3 linked regions of the Homo sapiens genome follow. The protein of the gene in region 3 purifies or fractionates together with the protein of the main gene of each other region. This does not show direct contact. Each region holds a gene or a part of one and is shown on either strand. Other genes may lie near its edges. The genes, in order: MFGE8, TMEM192 and CLEC12B.

Region 1 (6,234 bases), on a different chromosome or scaffold from region 3:
TTCTCCAGCCCACCACTCCAGTTGCAGAGAGAATGGAAACTGCTGAAGGGGAAAACCAGCTGCCCCAGCCAGTCTTCCTGGCAGGAAGGGAGCAAAAGCATTCAGGAGACAGTGTCTGCCAGCACTCGCTGGGCCCCTGACCAGGCAGCAGTTGTAGGGCTCAGGGCCAGACGGCATGGAGGTAGAAAGCAGAGGGAAGAGGGGAAGTCAGGTTTTGAGGACCTGGAAGTCCTGACTTCCTTCAGGCCGCCCTGGACCAAAGTCTCCAGCCTCCTGCTATGAAGCTATGTGTAGTCAGGCAGGTGACATAAAGAAAGATGGGGCTGGGCACGGTGGCTCACGCCTGTAATCCCAGCACTTTGGGAGGCCGAGGCAGGTGGATCACAAGGTCAAGAGATTGAGACAATCCTGGCCAACACGGTGAAACCCTGTCTCTACTAAAAATATAAAACTTAGCTGGGCATGGTGGTGTGCACCTATAGTCCCAGCTACTTGGGAGGCTGAGGTAGGAGAAATGCTTGAACCCAGGAGGCAGAGATTGCAATGAGCCGAGATCACACCACTGCACTCCAGCCTGGCGACAGAGCAAGACTCCATCTCAAAAAAAAAAAAAAAAAAGCAAGCAAGCAAGCTGGGGCTCAGGGAGGACCACAGGTGGGGGATGGGGAAACCAGCGCAATTTAAATCCCATTCCCATGAAACAATAACGAACCACACCAAGAGTTCCCGTGAAGAAGATAAATATATTTTGGAAGCTGCCTGTGTCCTCTGGGGTGAAAAGCCAGCATAGAGGGCCCCAAACGCCCACCCTGCCAACCCATGCCCTCCTCTGACCTCGCTCCCTTTCTCCCCATAGACCCGCCCCACCCCCTTCTGTGTCGCTGGGCTTCAGGACAAGGGGCAAGAGAGGCAACCAGGGAGACAAGGGGAAGTGTCTTGGGGACAGGGGGCCACAGCAGTTGTGGCCACATGGTACCCCAGGGCCGACGCAGGGCCGACGGGCAAGAGGCTGTTATCTCCAGCCTGGCGCTTCCGGGCCTTTCTTGAGGCCACCATGGGAATGTGATGTGTGAGAGAGGGGCTAGGAGAGACAGAGACACACGCACCTGGGATCGGCGGTCCGGACAGGGGCAGGGAAACCACACGCCCTACTTTGCCCTTTCCTGTCCATCCCAGACCTACTCAGATCCCTCAGTGCCTAAGAAAACAGGACAGTGAGGACTGGGGGTTAGGGGACGGGGCTTAGGGGCTGGGGCAGGGCCCGTGAGAGGTGGAGGGTGGGAAAGAGGGAGGGAGGGGTGACTGTGTGGTGGTGCTGCCTCTGAACACCCTCCCCTTCCCCAGTCCCCAGCCCTATGGTGATTTAAAGGGGCTGAGAAGCCAAGAGGCAGCGGGCCCATGGAAAGCAGGAAGACCTGGGGGTGGCAGGTGGCCACTAACAGCCCAGCAGCTCCAGGCGCAGGGCGATGCGGTTGTGCCAGGCTACAGGCAGGATGCGCACATAGCGAGCCAGGATGGGCGTCTCAAACAAGTTCTTCTTGTGGGAGTGGTTGTCCCAGTTGCCAGGGAAGATCTAGAGGCAGAGCGGGTGTCAGGAGGACCCCGAGCCAGCCCCCCTCCCCTCAGAGCCCCAGGCCAGACTCCCAGGGAAGTAATGAAGGAATGGCAAAGGGTGGGCAGCTGGACAGACACCCACCTTACTGCTGCCAGTCCTGGGGTCCTGGTACTCAGTCCAGTTCGCACTGTCATTACTGTAGGCAACCTTGTAGGATGCCACAAACTGGACAGAGCCAAAGTTACGGGCCCCCTGGGTGATGATGCCTGTCACCTCCTTCGAGGAGCCCAGGTCCACCTACAGAAGAAACCAACCACATTTTCTCTGCTTGGACCATCTCCAGTAAGGTGAAAAGAGGCAGACACACTGAGGCATGAATTCTAGTTTTGAAAAAAACTACTTGGGTGAGCCTCAGTTTCTTTGGCTATAAAATGGGCATAAGGCCGGACATGGTGTCTCATGCCTATAATCCCAACACTTTGGGAGAGACTTGAGGCAGGTGGATCACCTGAGGTCAGGAGTTCGAGACCAGCCTGACCAACATGGTGAAACCCCGTCTCTACTAAAAATACAAAAAATTAGCTGGGCATGATGGTGGCTGCCTGTAATCCCAGCTACTAGGGAGGCTGAGTCAGAAGAACCGCTTGAACCTGGGAGGCGGAGGTTGCGGTGAGCCGAGATGGCGCCACTGCACTCCAGCCTGGGTGACAGAGCAAGGCTCTGTCTCAGAAAAAAAAAAAAAAAAAGCGGTGAGGGGGCATAAATAATACCACCTACTTTGCCACACATGGTGTTCGGTACCTCACTGCTATAAAGCTCATAGGGTCTGGGCCCTGGCCAACTCCACGCCAACCACCCCTGCCTGAGACCTGCACTGCACTGTGATGGGAAGAAGGACAGGAGAGGCCACAGCCTGGAGGGGCATGAACTGCTCTAGAGGCTCCCTGCGGCGCCGCCCACAGTCTGACACTGGTCCTGAGGGTGTCCACAGGCAGGCAGCTCCTCAGGGAACCCAGCTCCGCAGTGTGCTCCATGGGGCCCTGAGACAGACCTCCTGTCCCCGGTCCCTGACCTCCCTGGAGAACCTGCCAGCTGCACCTGGACACACAGTTCCCCAACATCCAGGTGTAAACCCAACTCACTGCCAGCCAGCAGGTGGGTACTAGGCAGATCATCGTCCTGCCAGCTCTCGGCTTCCTCATCTATAAAACAAGCTCCGGTTTTCCATGGCTCTCTTTTGTTTCCTAGTTTCAATGACAGACAAGGGCTGTCACATGGTGGCTTCTTAGACACTGAGTCAGAGAATATGTATGCTGTGCTCAAGGGAGAGGTCCCAAGATGCCTGGGTCATGTCTCCCTCTTCCGCCTCCGCCCTGCTGTCTGTCCATAGGCTGAGCCTTGTCAATCCTGTGGCAGCCCATGGAATGGCTCTCCCCTTGTGTACACACATACACACACATTCACACACACACATTCACACACACACATTCACACACACACACACATTCTCACACACACATATTCACACACATTCACACATACACATTCACATACACATTCACATACACATTCACACACATTCACAAATACACATTCACACATACACATTCACACACACACATTCACACACACATTCTCACACACACATTCACACACATTCTCACACATTCACACACACATTCACACATTCACACACACACATTCACACATACACATTCACACACACATTCACACGCACGCATTCACACGCACGCATTCACACACACTCACATTCACACACATTCACACACTCACACACACACATTCACACACACACACACATACACACACACACCCTTTCTCCACCTTGGTGGAAGCAGGATCAAGAGAAGGGAGTACAGGTGGGAAGAAGAAAGAAAAGCCGAAGAAAAACAAGGCTTTTCCAGAACTCTTTTGGGGAGCAGAAGAGAAGCCTGGGCTGGAGAGAGGTCAAAGATCTGGCAGTCCCACCTCATCCCACCCAACCCCAGCCCCATATCCCAAGAAGGCTGACCCACCTGCAGCCACTGATCGTTACCGTAGCTCCCCGCAACCCAGGCGTTGAAGTTGCCCTGCTTGTCCAGCCGTGCATAGGAGGGGTTCCAGCTGAAGAGATGCAAGCCCCAGGTCTTGTAGCTGCTGGAGGCCGTGATCTGCTTGTCAGGGATGCTGTTATTCTTCAGGCCCAGGGGATTGGCGCATCCTGCCAGCAAGGTGGGCTGTCATCTGGATCTGGGATCCACAGCTCCCAGGGGCAGGAGCACAAGGCGATGAAGCAGAAAGAACTCTGTGGATCCTGACCAGCCCCTGTCATGCTCTTGGGCAACAGAAAGCAGCTCCATCCGCCTTGCAGGGCCAACTGTGCGACCTTCTCACTGCCGACCCCACCACCTCCTCACCTCAACCAGCCGGGCTCAGCTCCTCACAGATCACCCAAGACCTCCCACTCACCACCCTTCTCCTCTGCACCAGGGAAGGCCCCTGCTCCACCACCTCCTGCCCTCCTTCAATGCCTGACTTTGGAGACACCTCCTCCAAGAAGTCTGCCCTGACTACTTCACTTGGGCAGGATTTCTTCCTCTTCTGGACTCACAGCACTGCCCCCATCGCCTCGGCCTCCCATCCGTCCCATGGCACAGTCACTATCTACTTTAATAACAACCACATTGTTTATTCAGTGCTTACTTCAGTCATTTAACCTGCCACCAAAAAAAAAAAGAAAAAAAAACACTAAATGAAGTAGAAATTAGTAAGCCCATTCTATAGATGAGAAAACTGAAAGACATTAAGCATCATGCTCAAGTCACATACAAACTCCTAATGTCACACTATGACGTCACCTCTACCAGCTACACATCCCAGCTAGATGATGAAGGCCTGCCTAGTGACGACCCAGTGATGAACAGGACAACATCCCTGCCCTCCAGCAGCTGGCAGTTAGAGAAATCAGACAACTCCTGGGGCACAGGAACATCTCTATTTCCATTCCCCAGAAGCCCCCTGACTTAGTGTCTCCCAGAGGGCCTTCGCACACTCAAATGTTCTGGGGATGCTGTCACACAGGCCTGTGAGGGCTGGCCCGGGAAGCTGGCCTTTGTTTCACTCAGCCCTGCCCCAAACACTCAGGAATGTGCCGGGCTGCCTTGCACTTGTATCTGCACCTGCATATGGATAGAACAGTTGGGGATGGGCAAGAGATACAACTCCCAAGAGAATGATGGGGGTGTCTCCCACCTGGAAGAATCCTCACTCCACAAGTGTCTATCCCTCTGGGGAATTGAGGGAGGCAGGAGTGGACGGTGGGACTGGAGAGCCCCCTGCCCTCTGGGAGCCAGCTAAGTTATATCACTGCCCTCCAATACTCTCACCACTCAAGAGTACTGGGAGCCAGCTAAGTTATATCACTGCCCACCTGTACTCTCACCACTCAAGACATTTGCCTCCAGGGTGTGTTGACAATGCCTGCTGATGGTACCATCATCTCCTGATGGTGATGCACCAGGGAACCACCACCTTCCCCCTCAAAGAGAGGCTCCCGGGCTGAGAGCTGGTTGTCCCTTGGCCCCAGAAGAGGAGAGGCCTGAGGCAGGCTAAAACCTGGGCAGCTTTGCAGAGGACACCAATTCTGCACAATGTGCTCAACGCAGACCCCTCTACAGATCATCTGCTTCTAGTGGTTCATACCCTCCTCACTCTCAGCCTCCCCAGGAAGTCAGACAGCCTTTCTGGTAAAATGCAGTTGGAAGGGGCACCAGGGCAGGGACAGGACTGTCAGCTCCAGCACTCTAGGAAGTCCCTTCCTCTCTCTGGCTCTCAGTCTCCCCATCTATAAAATGAGATACTAGGGGAGTAATTCTCACAGATCACCTGGGGATCTTGATATAAAAAAAAAAAGCTTATGTTTCAGCAAGTCTAGGCTGGGGCTTTCAGTCTGTATTTCTTTTTTTTTGTTTTTTTGTTTGTTTGTTTGAGACACAGTCTCGCTCTGTCACCCAGGCTGGAGTGCAGTGGCATGATCTCGGCTCACTGCAACCTCCACCTTCTGACCGGGTTCAGGCAATTATCCTGCCTCAGCCTCCCTAGTAGCTGGGATTACAGGCACCTGCCACCACGCCTGGCTAATTTTTGTATTTTTTTAGTAGAGACGGGGCTTCGCCATGTTGGCCAAGCTGGTCTTGATCTCCTGACCTCAGGTGATCCGCTCGCCTCGGCCTCCCAAAGTGCTGGGATTACAGGCGTGAGCCACCGCACCCGGCCTCAGTCTGCATTTCTAAGAAGCTCCTAGGTGATGACACTGCGGGTCCCTGGGGCTCTTCACCCACCAAGCTGCCCCTCCATCTCTTGGCTCCAGCTCCACTGGCCTTCCTTCCACCCTTCAACATGCCCCAGGGCCTTTGCATTTACCAATTCCTTGCCTGCAGTGCTCTTTTTGCAGTGCTGTTTTTAAGTTTTTCATGTGGCTGGCTCTCCATCATTCAGGCCCCCAGTCAAAGGCCTTCCCGACAGAGCAGTCCTTGTCTTGCTCTCTCCCCTCACCCCAAGTCATGGTCATCTCATCAGCCTCTAGCTTTTCTTCAGAGCTGTTACTGCTCTCTGTCATCTGCTCCTCGCCTCAAGTCTGCCTTCCTTGCTACAATGCAAATTACATGAGGTCAAGGAAT
Region 2 (8,037 bases), on a different chromosome or scaffold from region 3:
CCCACTCTTTTTTTTTTTTTCTGAGCTGGGCTATTCACTGAAAAAATACTCTTTATATAAAGGTTTTCAAGTTATCTTGATGGAACTGAGAAGGGATATGCTCTGAGTAGAGTCAACTCTTGTATATACTGACTTTTTTTTTTTTGAGACCGAGTCTCTATTTTTTTTTTTTTGAGACGGAAACTTGCTCTGTTGCCCAGGCTGGAGCACAGTGGTGCGATCTCAGCTCACTGCAAACTCCGCCTCATGGGTTCATGCCATTCTCCTGCCTCAGCCTCCTGAGTAGCTGGGACTATAAGCGCCCATCATCACGCCCGGCTAATTTTTTTTTTTTTGTATTTTTCAGTAGAGATGGGGTTTCACCATATTAGCCAGGATGGTCTCGATATCCTGACCCCATGATCCACCCGCCTCGGCCTCCCAAAGTGCTGGGATTACAGGCGTGAGCCACCGTGTCCGGCAGAGACCGAGTCTTGCTCTGTGGCCCAGGCTGGAGTGCAATGGCGCAATCTCGGCTCACTGCAACCTCTGCCTCCCCGGTTCAAGCTATTCTTCTGCCTCAGCCTCTAGGATTACAGGCATGTACCACCATGCCCGGCTAATTTTTGTATTTTTAGTAGAGACGGGGTTTCACCATGTTGACCAGGCTGGTCTCAAACTGCTGACCTCAAGTGATCCACCCTCCTTGGCCTCCTATAGTGCTGGGATTACAGGCGTGAGCCACCATGACTGACCATCTTCTTTTTTTTTTTTTTTTTCAACACAGAGTCTCACTCCATTGCCCAGGCTGGAGTGCAGTGGCATGATCTCGGCTCACAGCAACCTCCGCCTCCAGGGTTCCCGCGATTCTCCTGCCTCACCCTCCCGAGTAGCTGGGACTACAGGCGTGCACCACCACACCCAGCTAATTTTTATATTTTTAGTAGAGATGGGGTTTCAGCACGTTGACCAGGCTGGTCTTAAACTCCTGACCTCAAGTGATCCACCCGCCTCAGCCTCCCAACGTGCTGGGAATACAGGCCTAAGCCACCACACCCAGACCTGGACATCGTCTATATACAGTAGACTTTCAATTAACATCCCTGTTCCCTGCCCTATGTTCCACTCCTGGGCATCCTGTTCATTTCTGAGTTCCAAGTCTCTCTGGGGCTACACAAAAAGAGTGGCTGCCTCCTTGGCTTTATTTCTCCCCGTGTCCTCTAAATGTAGCCTCTCTGCCCTGTGGTATTGTCTACCGCTCCTTCATCTGTATTCTGTAGCCCACACATTTTCAGAAATCACTCAACCATCGATGGTCCCTTTCTCCTCCAGTTTTTCTGCTAGTGTGGGTAGGTTGGTCTTTTTTAATCCTTCACTATCCTTTTGGAAGGATCTGGGGAGGGTGAAGGGATAAACGTGTGGCTAGATTTACCTTCTTTCATTGGAAGTTGATTCAAATTTTCAAACTGAGATGCATTTTCAAAGAAGCATTCCATACAAATTTTAAAAGTAAAAGAGGAATATAAACTGAATTTTTTTTTTTTTGGAACAAAGTTTCACTCTCGTTGCCCAGGCTGGAGTGCAATGGCGTGATCTCGGCTCACTGCAACCTCTGCCTCCCGGGTCCAAGCGATTCTCCTGCCTCAGCCTCCTGAGTAGCTGGGATTACAGGTGCGCACCACCACGCCCGGCTAATTTTTGTATACTCAGTAGAGACAGGGTTTCACCATGCTGACCAGGCTGGTCTGAACTTCTGACCTCAGGTGATGCACCCGCCTCGGCCTCACAAAGTACTGGGATTACAGGCGTGAGCCACCACGTCCGGCATAAACTGAATTTCATTGCCCCAAAGTTAACCCCATGAGGTGAAGGGAATACATTTTAAAAAGCTTTCCATTAAGTCATAAGAGAGCAATATTAGGTAAACTCTTCAGTGCTCAGGGGGAACAAGATGAAATATGAAAAGGGTCAAGGTCAGGAAGAACAGTCTCTGAATTTAATAAGCCCAAAAGTCAACAAAGAGATAATCAACAATTGATACTAAAGTTATTCCTCTATTTAGGTTAGAATGAAGAAAAAGAGTAAACAAAATAAGAAGGCAGATCATGGTAAGTGAAAAGTGACAAAAAAAAGTTGTATTTTCTAGGGGAAAGAATCTATTTCACTAAAGACACCTCCGTTTTCATAGTTCTGTACGTATTGAGAATTATAGACAGTATAATCCAGGCTTCAAGAAACCGAGGGTAAAGGATTCTAGAACTATCAAGATATCATCAGTTTACACTGTGGGACAGAGATAACGATCCCAAGAAGAACAACCTTGGACTTGCTGCTCATTAAGTGTTTGTTTTTGTTTTTTGTTCTTTTTTCTTTTTATTCATTAAGTATTTATATTCCACACTATAATAAAAAGCAATGTGCATCCTGATTCAACACTGTCACACCTGTGTTGTCACTTCACACCTGTGCCTAACAACAGTTCAGTTTATAAAAGCTAATTTAAAAATGACACTAATTCAAAAATTGGCCTTACTAAAAGCCAATACATTAAACTATATTTATTTCAACAACTGTTTTTAAAAGTATCTCTTTCCTTTATCTATAAAGTTTTTTGTTGTTGTTGTTTTGTTTCGAGACAGAGTCTTGCTCTGTTATCCAGGCTGGAGTGCAGTGGCGCAATCTTAGCTCACTGCAACCTCCGCCTCACAGGTTCAAGCGATTCTCCTGCCTCAGCCTCCTGAGTAGCTGGGACTACAGGTGTGCATCACTTTGCCCAGCTAATTTTTGTATATTTAGTAGAGATGGGGTTTCACCATATTGGTCAGGCTGGACTCAAACTCCTGACCTCGTGATCTGCCCACCTCAGCCTCTTAAAAGTGCTAGGATTACAGGCATGAGCCACCGCGCCCAGTCATGTTTTTTTCTTTTTCTTTTTTTAACTAGTACATCAGTAATGGCACTGAGTCCATTTCTTAAGCCCCTAAGTAATACACTTTCTTTTTTTTGTTTGAGATGGAGTCTCGCTCTGTTGCCCAGGCTGGAGTACAGTGGCGCCATCTTGGCTCACTGCAACCTCTGTCTCCCGGGTTCAAGCGATTCTCCTGCCTCAGCCTCTCAAGTAGCTGGGATTACAGGTATGCGCCACTGTGCCTGGCTAGTTTTTGTATTTTTAGTAGAGATGGGGTTTCATCATGTTGGCCAGGCTGGTCTTGAACTCCTGACCTCAGGTGATCTACCCACCTCGGCCTCCGAAAGTGCTGGGATTACAGGCGTGAGCTGCCCCACCTGGCCCACACTTTCTTTATATATACTGACTATATTCTTATGTCTGTTGCTATCCACTTCAGATGATGTTAAGGAATAACTCGTGTCCCAGATTATATAGATCCAAAAGCAGGATGAGAAGAACCACAGACATGGCCAGGAGTGGTGTAATCATGCCTGTAATCCCAGCACTTTGGGAGGCCGAGGTGGATGGATCACTTGAGGTCAGGAGTTTGAGACCAGCCTGGCCAACATGGTGAAACCTTGTCGCTACTAAAAATACAAAAATTAGCTGGGCATGTATAGTTTTTTACATCTACTTTAGCCCCAAGATCTCCAACAGATATGAATGATATTTTAATTACCATGGAAGTCACTTAGGGAGAGACTGGATAGAAACAAGGGTGGGCAGACCGGGCTGGCTGTTTGGGAGGCTGAAATGGGAGGATTGCTTGAGCCCAGGAGTTTGAGGCCAGCCTGGGCAATACAGAGAGACTCTATCCCTTAAAAAGAAAATAACAGGCCGGGCGAGGTGGCTCACGCCTGTGATCCCAGCACTTTGGGAGGCTGAGGCGGGCGGATCACCTGAGGTCAGGAGTTCAAGACCAGCCTGACCAACATGGAGAAACCCCATCTCTACTAAAAATACAAAATTAGCCAAGCGTGGTGGTGCATGCCTGTAATCCCAGCTACTGGGAGGCTGAGGCAGGAGAATCGCTTGAAACTGGGAGGTGGAGACTACGGTGAGCCAAGATCATGCCACTGCACTCCAGCCTGGGCAACAAGAGCAAAACTCCATCTCAAAAAAAAAAAAAAAAAAAAGACACCTATAAAAAAAGGTGCTTCAAGGAGGGAGTAACCAGTTAATGATGTCAAAAGCTCTTGAGAGGTTAAATAGGTTGGCTAAGTGGTTAATTTTTTGCATCAAATATATGGCCTATTTAATACATTTACACATCCTGATTTAGACTTGATTTCACCACAGCTGAAAGGAAATAAACAAATCAAACAAATGTAAAAGTACAAATACACAATCATAAATTCCAAGCATCAGAATGGTTTCTAGCTTTCTAGGGGAAAAAACTCAATTATTTTATTCTCACCTAAATCTTACCTGAATCCAGTCTCCGAGGTAATATTGCTGGGGTAAGCATAGATTTTTTCTTCTTCAAGTATATCAGGCTCTGGTTTAGCTTTATTAAATCTCCGGATTTTCACTAAAATAATAAAGTCATTATTAGATCGAATTCTGAAAGACAAGTCTAGTTTCATTTTTTCAAATTATGCTAATTTGCCGTTCTTATTAACGTCCTTGAGTATTTCAAATTCTACTATGTGCCAGGCCTGTTCTAAGCCCTGGGAATATAGGGATTACATTAGTATTGAAATAGCAATAATAGCTGACATTTATTGTGCACTTAGAACACATGAGGCACAGTTTAAATGTTTTACATGGATGCCCTCATTCAGTTCTCATAAACACCTGCATGAAGTGGATGCTCCTATTACCCCGCAGTGAAGCCCAGAGAAGTTGAGCAACCAGCCAGCCATCTAATTCAGAAATCATGACTTCCTCTGGTCCAGGGGAAAATACAGATAATAATCCTACATTCTAAGACAGTATGGAAAGTACCTTCAATAGAAGCTTGTGCAAGAGGCTTGCACAAGGAGTTGTCAAGCTGCTTTTTGGCCTGGAAAGCAGTGCCTAACTCAACAGGAGGTATCAGAGAGGGGAAAAGAGGATAGAGTTTGAGCCCAGGAATTAATCACACAGACTAGGAGAATAAAGAAGGGTGCTTCAGGTGCAGGAGGAGTCTGAACAAATGCTATGGTCTTGAGAAGCTACACGTATGTATGGGTGTGAGGGTGTATGGACAAGGGGTGGGTTGGGAAGATAGGCAGAGAATGCATCAGGAGTGGCTGGTGTGTCATGCAAGGCATTTACACTTTTTTTTTTTTTTTTTTTGAGACGGAGTCTTGCTCTGTCGCTCAGGCTGGAGTGCAGTGGCACAACCTTGGCTCACTGCAACCTCTGTCTCTGCCTCCTAGGTTCAAGCAATTCTCCCACCTCAGCCTCCCGACTGGGATTACAGGCGTGCACCACCACACCCAGCTAATTTTTTTTGTATTTTCAGTAGAGACGGTGTTTCACCATGTTGGCCAGGCTGTTCTCAAACTCCTGGCCTCAAGTGATCCACCCGCTGAGGCCTCCCAAAGTGCTGGGATTACAGGCGTGAGTCACCAGGCCCGGCCTAAGACATTTAGATTTTATCCTCAGAGCAACTGGCAGTCTTTGAAAGGATCTCACCATCATCCCTGAAGAGCAGGCTAGGTAGAGGCCATTCAAGGAGAACCTTTCAGGCTGGGCATGGTGGCTCATGTCTGTAATCCCAGCACTTTGGGAGGCCGAGGCGGATAGATGACCTGACATCCGGAGTTTGAGACCAGCCTGGCGAACATGATGAGATGCTGTCTTTACTAAAAACACAAAAATTAGCTGGGTGTGGTGGTAGGCGCCTATAATCCCAGCCACTCAGGAGGCTGAGGCAGGAGAATCGCTTAAACCCAGGAGGCGGAGGTTGCAGTAAGCTGAGATCACGCCATTGCACTCCAGCCTGGGTGACGAGAGTGAAACTCCAACTCAAAAAAAAAATAAAGAAAATGCCTTTTATGCCACATGAAAACGTTAGATTTTTTTTCCTTCAGCTATTAGAAAACTCTGGGCAGGGAAGCTGTTAACAATCAGAGTTAAGTATAAACAAGATCATGTTGGCAGGAATAAGAAATATGAATCAGTGGACAGAGGGAAAGAGACCTGTTATGTGTCTCCTGGATGTAGCCATGCAAGAGATGATGAGTACCTAACCAAGGCAGTGGCAGGGACCAAAGAAAAGAGACAGAGCTGAAAGACAGGTAGACTGAATAAGACTGATGACTGACTGATCACCAATCCTATCCAGTTCTTGGGGAGTGAGGTAGAAGGAAGAAGGTAGATGACTCCTACGTTTCTAGGATTCTGATTTATCAAGTGGATGCAGGCTGGTATTGTTAACTGAGCTAGAAGAGGACGGTTAGGATGGAGGGAAATTTTGAAGAAAATTATGTTCTGTTCACTTCTGATCTTGTTGGTGCCTGTGGGACATGTGGATGAAAACTTCATTAAGCAGATGAATATATACAATTTGGGGCTGGGTGCGGTGGGTCATGCCTGTAATCCCAGCACTTTGGGAGGCCAAGGCGGGCGGATCACCTGAGGTCAGGAGTTAGAGACCATCCTGGCCAACATGACGAAACCCCATCTCTATTAAAGTGCTAGCCTCCTAAAGTGCTAGGATTACAGACATGAGCCACTGTGCCTGGCCTATTTCTTAATTTTTAATTTTAAATGCAAGCTGACATTTCAGCTGCCTTCAGAGAAGCAAAAGTTTGTGGATGTTTTTGTTGTTGTTGTTTTAGGAGACAGGGTCTTACTCTGTCACCCAGGCTGGAGTGCAGGCATGTGATCTTGGCTCACTGCAACCTCTGTCTCCCAGGCTCTAGTGATCCTCCCACGTCAGCCTCCTGAGGGGCTGGGACCACATTTGTGCACCACCATACCTGGCTAATTTTTTGTATTTTTTGTAGAGATGGAGTTTCATCATGTTGTCCAGGCTGGTCTTGAATTCCAGAGCTCAAGTGATCCTTCTGCCTCATCCTCCCAAAGAGCTGGGATTACAGGCTTGAGCCACCATTCCCAGCCCAAAAAGTTTGTGTCTTGTTTTAATGGAAAAGTTTCACTTGCATTAACAAAAATTTATTAATGACACAATCTTAAAAGAATGGGGTCTCACTGGTGGTGGCTGTACCTTCCTGTTGGTTTGAAATTAAAGAAGTCTGCATGTGGTCACCACTCAGATACACAGAGAACTTCCTTGTCGCTAATGGGCTATACTTTAAACTGGGAGGAAAGGAAGCAGTTCGAAGTTCCTATAAGAACAGGCTCGTTGTAATTCTCACCTGTGTAAATGAGGAGACATATCAGGGAACAGATGAGTTCCAGTGCCAAGATGGCCAGAATGAGGTCAAGATACAATCTGCCAGGCTCTGGGAAGGAGTGCTGCATGCACAGTATGAGGAGAAGCACTGTGTTGCCTGAGGAGGAGAAACATAAAACACAGCATGTGATGAGAAATACATATATGGTCTTTGTCCAATAGATAGTTGGTCTTTGTCTGGTTCCTTACACAGAGCTCCTAAAACACTTGTAATTTCCTGAGTGATCAGAGCCTTCAGAAATGAAGACCCAGGCCAGGTGCAGTGGCTCACACCTGTAATGTCAGCATTTTGGGAAGTCAAGACAAGAGGATTGCTTGAGCCCAGGTGGTCGAGACCAGCTTAGGCAACATAGCAAGACCCCATCTCTATAAAAAAATATAAAAAATTAGCCAGGCATGGTGGCACACATCTGTAGTTCCAGCTACCTGGGAGGCTAAGGTGGGAGGATTGCTTGAGCCTGGGAGGTTGAGGCTGCAGTGAGCTGAGGTCGTGTCACTGCACTCCAGCCTGGGCAACAGAGCAAGACCCTACTGCAAAAAAAAAAAAAAAAAAAAAAAAAAGGAAAAGAAATGAAAGACCCAGAGAAAACTATTCTTATGCTTAGGTTTGATGAAGAATGGACAGCCATGTAGAAATGTGAGTGGACAAAGTATGATCTACTGGGAATAGACTGAAGGGGCAAACCCAGCAAGACCTGTCTATTCAGGTTCTTCTCGGCCTCTCTGTGTAGACTCCTCACCCCCAACCCTCCTGCCATAT
Region 3 (6,707 bases):
AGGAACACTGACAAACTGTGATTCAGGAAAGGTCTAAATAATTAAAGATAATGGTTCTTCTATTTTGATGTCTTCAAACAGTTTATTAGGACTTTTCTGAGGGAAACAAAATATCAATTGTAAGAGAATATATTTTTATAATAATACCCAGATTACAAAATCAATAACATCAATATTACTAATTTAAATAAATGACAAACACATAAATATTGGCCAGGGGCAGTGGCTCACACCTGTAATCCCAGGATTTTGGGAGGCTGAGGCTGGCAGATAGCTTGAGCCTAGGTGTTTGAGACCAGCCTGGGCAACATGGTGAAACCTCGTCTCTACAAAAAAATACAAAAATTAGCTGAGCATGGTGTTGCATGCCTGTGGTCCCAGGTATTCGGGAGGCTGAGGTGGGAGGGATCGATTGAGCCCAGGAGATTGAGGCTGCAGTGAGCCAATCACATCACAATACTACAGCCTAGGCAACAGAGTGAGACAGTGTCTCAAAAAAAAGTAAATATTAAATTATTATGCCTAGATTATAAATTATCTAAATTTTAAAGATTAATAAGAACGCTTATTTTCATAGGGTTGTTGGAGAAGAAAAGCTATTTTGCAAGTGCAGGGCGACACTTAGCTGGTTCACAGTGGTACAAACATTTGCTAAAATAAAATATTTCCAAATCAGTTGATACAGTGCTGCAGCCCCAGCTACCAGGACCCTTAGCCTGGGATCCCCCAGACCTCCACATGACCCAGCAACTATCACAACAGGCATCTCTTGGACCTTGTTCTAGTGCTGTGGCCTGTGTTTTTAAATATTTAAATATCACCCTAGTTTTTAAATATTTAAATATCACCCTAGTGCACACGTGACAGTATAATAATAATGAAAGAAAGGAGTCTTTATTTGAGAAAGCAAAGAAATTCAGTGAAATGATTCTGAGACAATCATAGGGCCATAGTATGGCTATTCCCCTTTGTCCCCAGGTATAATTTTAAGACCGAATAATAACATCAAATCAGAAGACGTCAGACAAGGAACTGGAGAATGTTCTGTTAAACAAGTTCATTTGTCTGATAATGTAAATACACAGTCATTTTAAAAGCTGGTTTGGCTCTGGTACCGTAGTTTCCTCTTTCCTCATATGAGCTTACTCACAAGTCTCTTACTTCTTGGAGAATTTGGAAGAAGCATACTAATCCAAATCCTCAGTCTTCACTGGGGCAGCTGTCTTCTCGCAAATCCAAAAAATTTCAGCACTACAGCGAGAAATATAAATATTTCCTTTTTGAAAATAAGCACATCCTTTGGATCCATTGATCTGGTCAAGTTCTTTAGTACTAAATCTGAAAATTAATTTAAAATTAATTATAAATTCTGTATTTGAAACGTGATCACTATTTAGTGCCCTCAGTTGCTCTTACAGCCAATGTCATGTATCTGAATATGGAGAGACTTCTGCCTCCACAAAGCTTCAAAATCTGAAGCTGCCTAAAGCTGGCACAAAATCTGCCCAGAGCTGGCACATCTGGGTTCTTTATTTTAAGTTAATCATAATCCCAGGTAGAATTCTTTAAGAGAAATACTTAAATCCTGGACTGAGAATTTGTATTTCCTTCATAAATATGTAATTCCATTAATGAAATCTAATCAGTTCAGCTTATATTAGAAGTACTTGAAGTTCTTTGGGACCTTATGAAGAAAAACATAAAAATAAAATCACATTCTGTTGTAAAAAGTTATCACATTTTATTATGCACAAATATAATTTTTCACATAGTTATACATATGTGGTGGGTAAAAAGAGAACAAGACAGACGTTAAAAGAGGAAATGATTGACTATATAGATATGGTTCTGACAATAGTATTCATTTCCTCTGCTAAGAAATTGATGTTAATCCTGAAATAATGTCTTTAGAAAATTATACTTGTCAGATCTAAATTTTCTTTGTGCCCAACATTGTTTTTTTCTAAATGACCTGCATTACACTGCCATATTCTTTGCTTGCTTCAGGGCTAGGCTTACTAAATCTTAGCCTTGGCCTTTACTCAGTAGTCAAGGAAATGGCTATGCAATCTGGAAGCTCAGTCTCTCTAACCTGTGTTTGACATGCTGGCTTGTCTGACAGCTGCATGTCTCAGGGGCCAGGGTCTGTAGGTTCCAAACCCTGCTGTGGGGGCCACCTCCTCCACACTTTGATTAAGAGTGAGTAGAGAGGCCAAGAATGATTAAAATCCCTTTGGGAGAAGGGACACATCTTAGATTCCAACATGAAAACTGAATGTGTTTACATGATGTCATAGTACTACTCCTGGAAACCCTCAGTCTAGTAGCAACACCTCAGATTAATATTAATCAGTTCATACCCAATATTGCTCTTGTCACAAAAAAGTAACTGTCACTTTTTTTGTTTGTGTATTACTCTGCATGTGCTTTTTGTCATTATTATTAGTGTGAAACCAAACTAATTGACTTGATATGATTAATAATGGTGATTAGAGAATGGGGGATTAGTGTTTGAGTAGAAATAGCCATGACAAAACATTGGGAAATGGATGAAGATAAAGTGTATCCAGGGAGAAAATAATAGACCTACCATTGTTTGTGATTTAAGGAACTGCTGAGTCACAGCTGAAGCATGGCATCTTTGACAGAAGATGAGTGATTATTATTCAGTTTAAGAAAACGTTGACAACATGCTTTAAAGAGTGAAACAGGAGGGAGGGGGGTGGATAATGATTTGTTGGGGGAGGAAGGTAGATAAAAAGCCATTATGAATACAAATATTCTGTTAGATAGAAGAAGTAAGACCTAGTGTTTCATAGATTATTAGGGTGAATACAATTAACAATAATCTACTGTACATTTCACAATAATGAGAAAATAATAATTTGAATGCTCCTAGCATAAAGAAAAGATAAATATTTAAAGTGATCGATATCCCAATTCCACTTATTTGATCTTTACACACTATCTGAATGTATCAAATTATCACATATACCCCAAAACATATACATCTCTTATGTATCAATAAAAAGTTTAAAAATCCATTAAGATGCCAAAGATCTTAAATTTTATCTAATAGAAAAATACTATTATATTTAAAATATTAATACAGTTGTTTCATTTAAATGTAGTTATGATGAGAGGTGTTCCTCAAAATTTTTTGTTTTATAGTCTGTGAAAGAATTTAGCAAACCTAATATCCCCTTACACATTTTTGTTGACGTCTATTTTTTCATAACTTTAAATAGTTAAAAAAATTGAAATTTTCCAAGTGTTATATATTCTATTTGTCCTTTAAATAGTTTCATCCAAACCCTGAAGTGGAAGGTTTAGTTCATTTTAATTCATAAAAGACACTTGCCGTATATTGTAATTGGCAAGTCCTCAACATGACACTAATTGTTGAACTAATCAGTCAATTCAGTCTTACTTTTTGTTAGAAAATGGTTGACAGTTATTTAGTATAAATAAATGTGTTGATATGTGTTCTTATGACCAGCAGCACCCTTTTGGATTGTAGGTGCTGGAGAGTCAGAATAGCTGAGTGACTGAGTGCACAATCCCTAAAGTGCAATTTATGAGCTGAGTGACCTCAGGCAAGTTACTTAATCTCTCTATTATAATATTTCTACCTATAAAATGGGAATATAACTGCTTTCTTCAAGGGTTAGTATTTATAAAATACTTTGAATGTAGTATTAGGTGTGTGTGTGTGTTAAATAAACACATTTCTACCAAAAGATAAAATTCAGTGCCTTGCTATAAATTTGTCACAGAGATGAAATGAACTATACCTCCTTTCAATATTTGTTACTGGAGCTCTTTTCTCAGTATGTTGTACTCCTCTTTTTATGTCTGTATTTATAATTCTCACAATCATTATTAATTTTCCCAGGATTCCATGGAAAGCTTGTGTTTACCCTCAATAGTTAGAGACGTACAAGGATGGAGAGGGAACAGAGCCATCTTCCCAGAACCAACTTCTGCCAGAGGAGTCCCATGATAATCCCAGCCAAAAGAACGAAAACATGAGTAATGGCTGTGACATAAGAAAATCCTAAGAGAGAAAACAGAGAAAAAGTTTTACGTGAGCGCCACATTCCAGTTTGCAGAGTTAAGATAGATGAGGACATTCATTAAATTCATGTATTAATTCTAATTCAAGATGCACTGAATTTCCATCATGTGAATCAGATGTTTTATTTATTTCTCTCTCATTGTATGGATAATGTCTATAACTAGAGAATGAGACTCAATCCTACCTTTTCTTCCAAACTGTCTATCTTCACTAGGGTGGAGTTCTTGTCTATGCAGTCCTTTCTACTGTTAGCCCAGGTTTTCTCCTCATTTGTTGTAAAATAGTAGCAACTATTTTGGTACCATTGCCACATCTTAGGACATGGATTACATCTGTGGTCTGAAAAGGAAATTATACCCAATAATATAAACTGAAGACTCTAGAGTGACTGGAGAAGGCTTTGAAACAAAATCATGTAATTGAACAATAGGGACTGAGAGCCTGCACCCTGAAAGCATACTGCTTTAGAAGCCTCTGAAAAAAAAGTGACCCCTGGTTATGGGTTGGGGCAACAGGGATTCTCTTTTCATGGCTTAGTCTTCTGACCTCAGAATTACCAGCTATGCCTTTAAGCTTTCAGAGCAACATGATCACCTAGAAATAGTTAATAAAATGAGGGGTTGAAGTATCCAGATTGATATCATTCCAAGATACTTCCCAAATTTGCCTGTGGTTTCAAAAATATTAAATGAATTTGTATATTTCCTTGCTGTGTGTAAATTTAGTGCAACATCATTAAGGTTCACTGGATGACATAACTCTCTCAATACTCTTAGGTGGTACATGTGATCAACTTAGACCAGGATAACATATGCCATCTGACTGGTCAGCAGGACTAAGTCTGATTACCTGAAGTATGAATGATTAGCTCTTGGCACAGTTTGATGGCCATTTGTTCCTGCCTCTTCAGTACACTGGAGATCTGTGACTTGAGAAATTCCTCCTCCATGGACAAGTTGTTGGAGTTGCCCAGTTGCTGGGATAAGTTATCCTGCTGCTGTTGGATGGTTTTCTGAAGTTGACTCAATTTCTCTGAATCTGAGTTAATGTCATTAGATATCTGCAAAACTCCAAGACATGACAGGAGACAAGTTCATATATTCTTCTATTCTTATAACTGTAGATAATTCTCGTGACAGAAACATTTCTTAATTGTTCAAGATTTATTAGTAGCTCTTAGTATTTGAGGTATCATGAAAGAAACAAACCAGATGCCTTTCTATTCCAAATTATTTATAGTTCTTTATAATTTTATTTACATTTTTATTATTGCACTATATTAAAATAATGATTTAATAATGATATATTTCTGACATCACATCTAAGGAAGGGCCAGTCATTCTGCCACTCATTTTCATGAAATTGTTTTATTTTTGTTTTATTTTATTTGGAGATAGATGATGTAATTGTTGTTTTAATGAAAACAGCATTCTTTGGGACAATGGATATCTCAAACTCTGCAGATGACCTGAGATGCTTGTTTACCAAAAGAAAAGAAAAAGCAGATCTTAATGGCATATCAGACCATTTCTCGTCATGGGTCCATGAAATATGCCCTTTTCATAAGCATTTAAGGTGCTTCATCAGCACAACAAATTTAAGAACCACTGCACCAAAAGCACTAAATTTTAGAAAAGAAATGTCACCCTTCTATATCGAACCAATGGACGTACGTTATTGCATTTTCACTTAATTTTTAAATATACATTATTGTAGAAGATCGGCTGCTAATCCTCATACTGATTGGCTCCAGAATATCTGTTACTGCTGCTTGAACATCATATTCCTTTTCAAAAGAGCAAGGTACATCATTAGTCTCTTTTTATGTTGGCAAAGATATGTCCAAATCCTAATTAACCATTAAATCCTAAAAAATTATCCATTAAATCATTAAAAAGAAATGAATGTAGCAGAGGAGATGTTAGTATCATTCAGCAAATTAACTTTCTTGACTGTGAGTTCCCTGTAAGCGAATACCATGCCAATTCACTACTCTGTATACCATATACTTAACAACCCTATAAAGTTTGTATTCTCAGGATGTTTTTCTCATTACTCAAGAACTCCCTACCATGTTCATCCCCAACTTCCCGAGGATGGGTCAGAATCAATAGAATGTTCCTTTGTGGCTGTGGTGCTTGAGAGTGGAGCTTCCATTGTCATGTGGAGATGGTTCAACTCTCTTACTTGGTAAGGTGTATCAGGCCACTCTTCCTCTTTGTTTATATGTCTTTCTCATTCATAGAAATCAGGCTGCTGCTGCTACTTGGAAGATTTCTCTCCACTAGAGAAGTTTCATGTAAGCAGACTGAACCTAGTCTAGTGTTAAGTCTTTCAGGTAAATAAAAATAGCAAGCACTTCCTTCAATACATATTTCTTGACTTTATTTCTCAGCATTGGAATGATAAGTGAATGTGTGTCTAGGCAGAAAAGAGGCTCTTTATTCTAATGAATAACTGGAAACAAAGAGTCTTTGTCTAAGTCCAGTTTAGCTTATCAAGATAAAACAATGAATTTAGAACCAAATCCTGATAATGTCTTTTGCCGGTTTTTTGGGAAGATATGACGAATAGGAGAGATATGAGACAGCAGAAAAGTATCAGACGATTCAGGATGCTAGGACCCATC

What was found.
Region 1: the proteins of CLEC12B (region 3) and MFGE8 purify together in Homo sapiens (co-immunoprecipitation; 2 studies listed by BioGRID and IntAct, with this or other methods). This does not show direct contact.
Region 2: the proteins of CLEC12B (region 3) and TMEM192 purify together in Homo sapiens (co-immunoprecipitation; 2 studies listed by BioGRID and IntAct, with this or other methods). This does not show direct contact.

What each region holds. Positions count from the first base shown.
Region 1 is NC_000015.10:88,897,960-88,904,193, forward strand, and holds the end of MFGE8 (lactadherin isoform a preproprotein), read right to left. Parts: intron 6,204-6,234; coding exon of another isoform or gene 6,157-6,203; exon of another isoform or gene 4,224-6,156; intron 3,777-4,223; coding exon 3,592-3,776; intron 2,800-3,591; exon of another isoform or gene 2,698-2,799; intron 1,853-2,697; coding exon 1,697-1,852; intron 1,574-1,696; coding exon 1,436-1,573; 3' UTR 724-1,435; downstream 1-723.
Region 2 is NC_000004.12:165,081,229-165,089,265, forward strand, and holds part of TMEM192 (transmembrane protein 192), read right to left. Parts: intron 7,375-8,037; coding exon 7,240-7,374; intron 4,461-7,239; coding exon 4,358-4,460; intron 1-4,357.
Region 3 is NC_000012.12:10,012,962-10,019,668, reverse strand, and holds the end of CLEC12B (C-type lectin domain family 12 member B), read right to left. Parts: intron 5,865-6,707; exon of another isoform or gene 5,147-5,864; coding exon 4,928-5,146; intron 4,784-4,927; exon of another isoform or gene 4,418-4,783; coding exon 4,263-4,417; exon of another isoform or gene 4,058-4,262; coding exon 3,942-4,057; coding exon of another isoform or gene 3,923-3,941; exon of another isoform or gene 1,720-3,922; intron 1,339-1,719; coding exon 1,188-1,338; 3' UTR 873-1,187; downstream 1-872. UniProt on the Homo sapiens protein: Inhibitory receptor postulated to negatively regulate immune and non-immune functions. Upon phosphorylation, recruits SH2 domain-containing PTPN6 and PTPN11 phosphatases to its ITIM motif and antagonizes activation signals.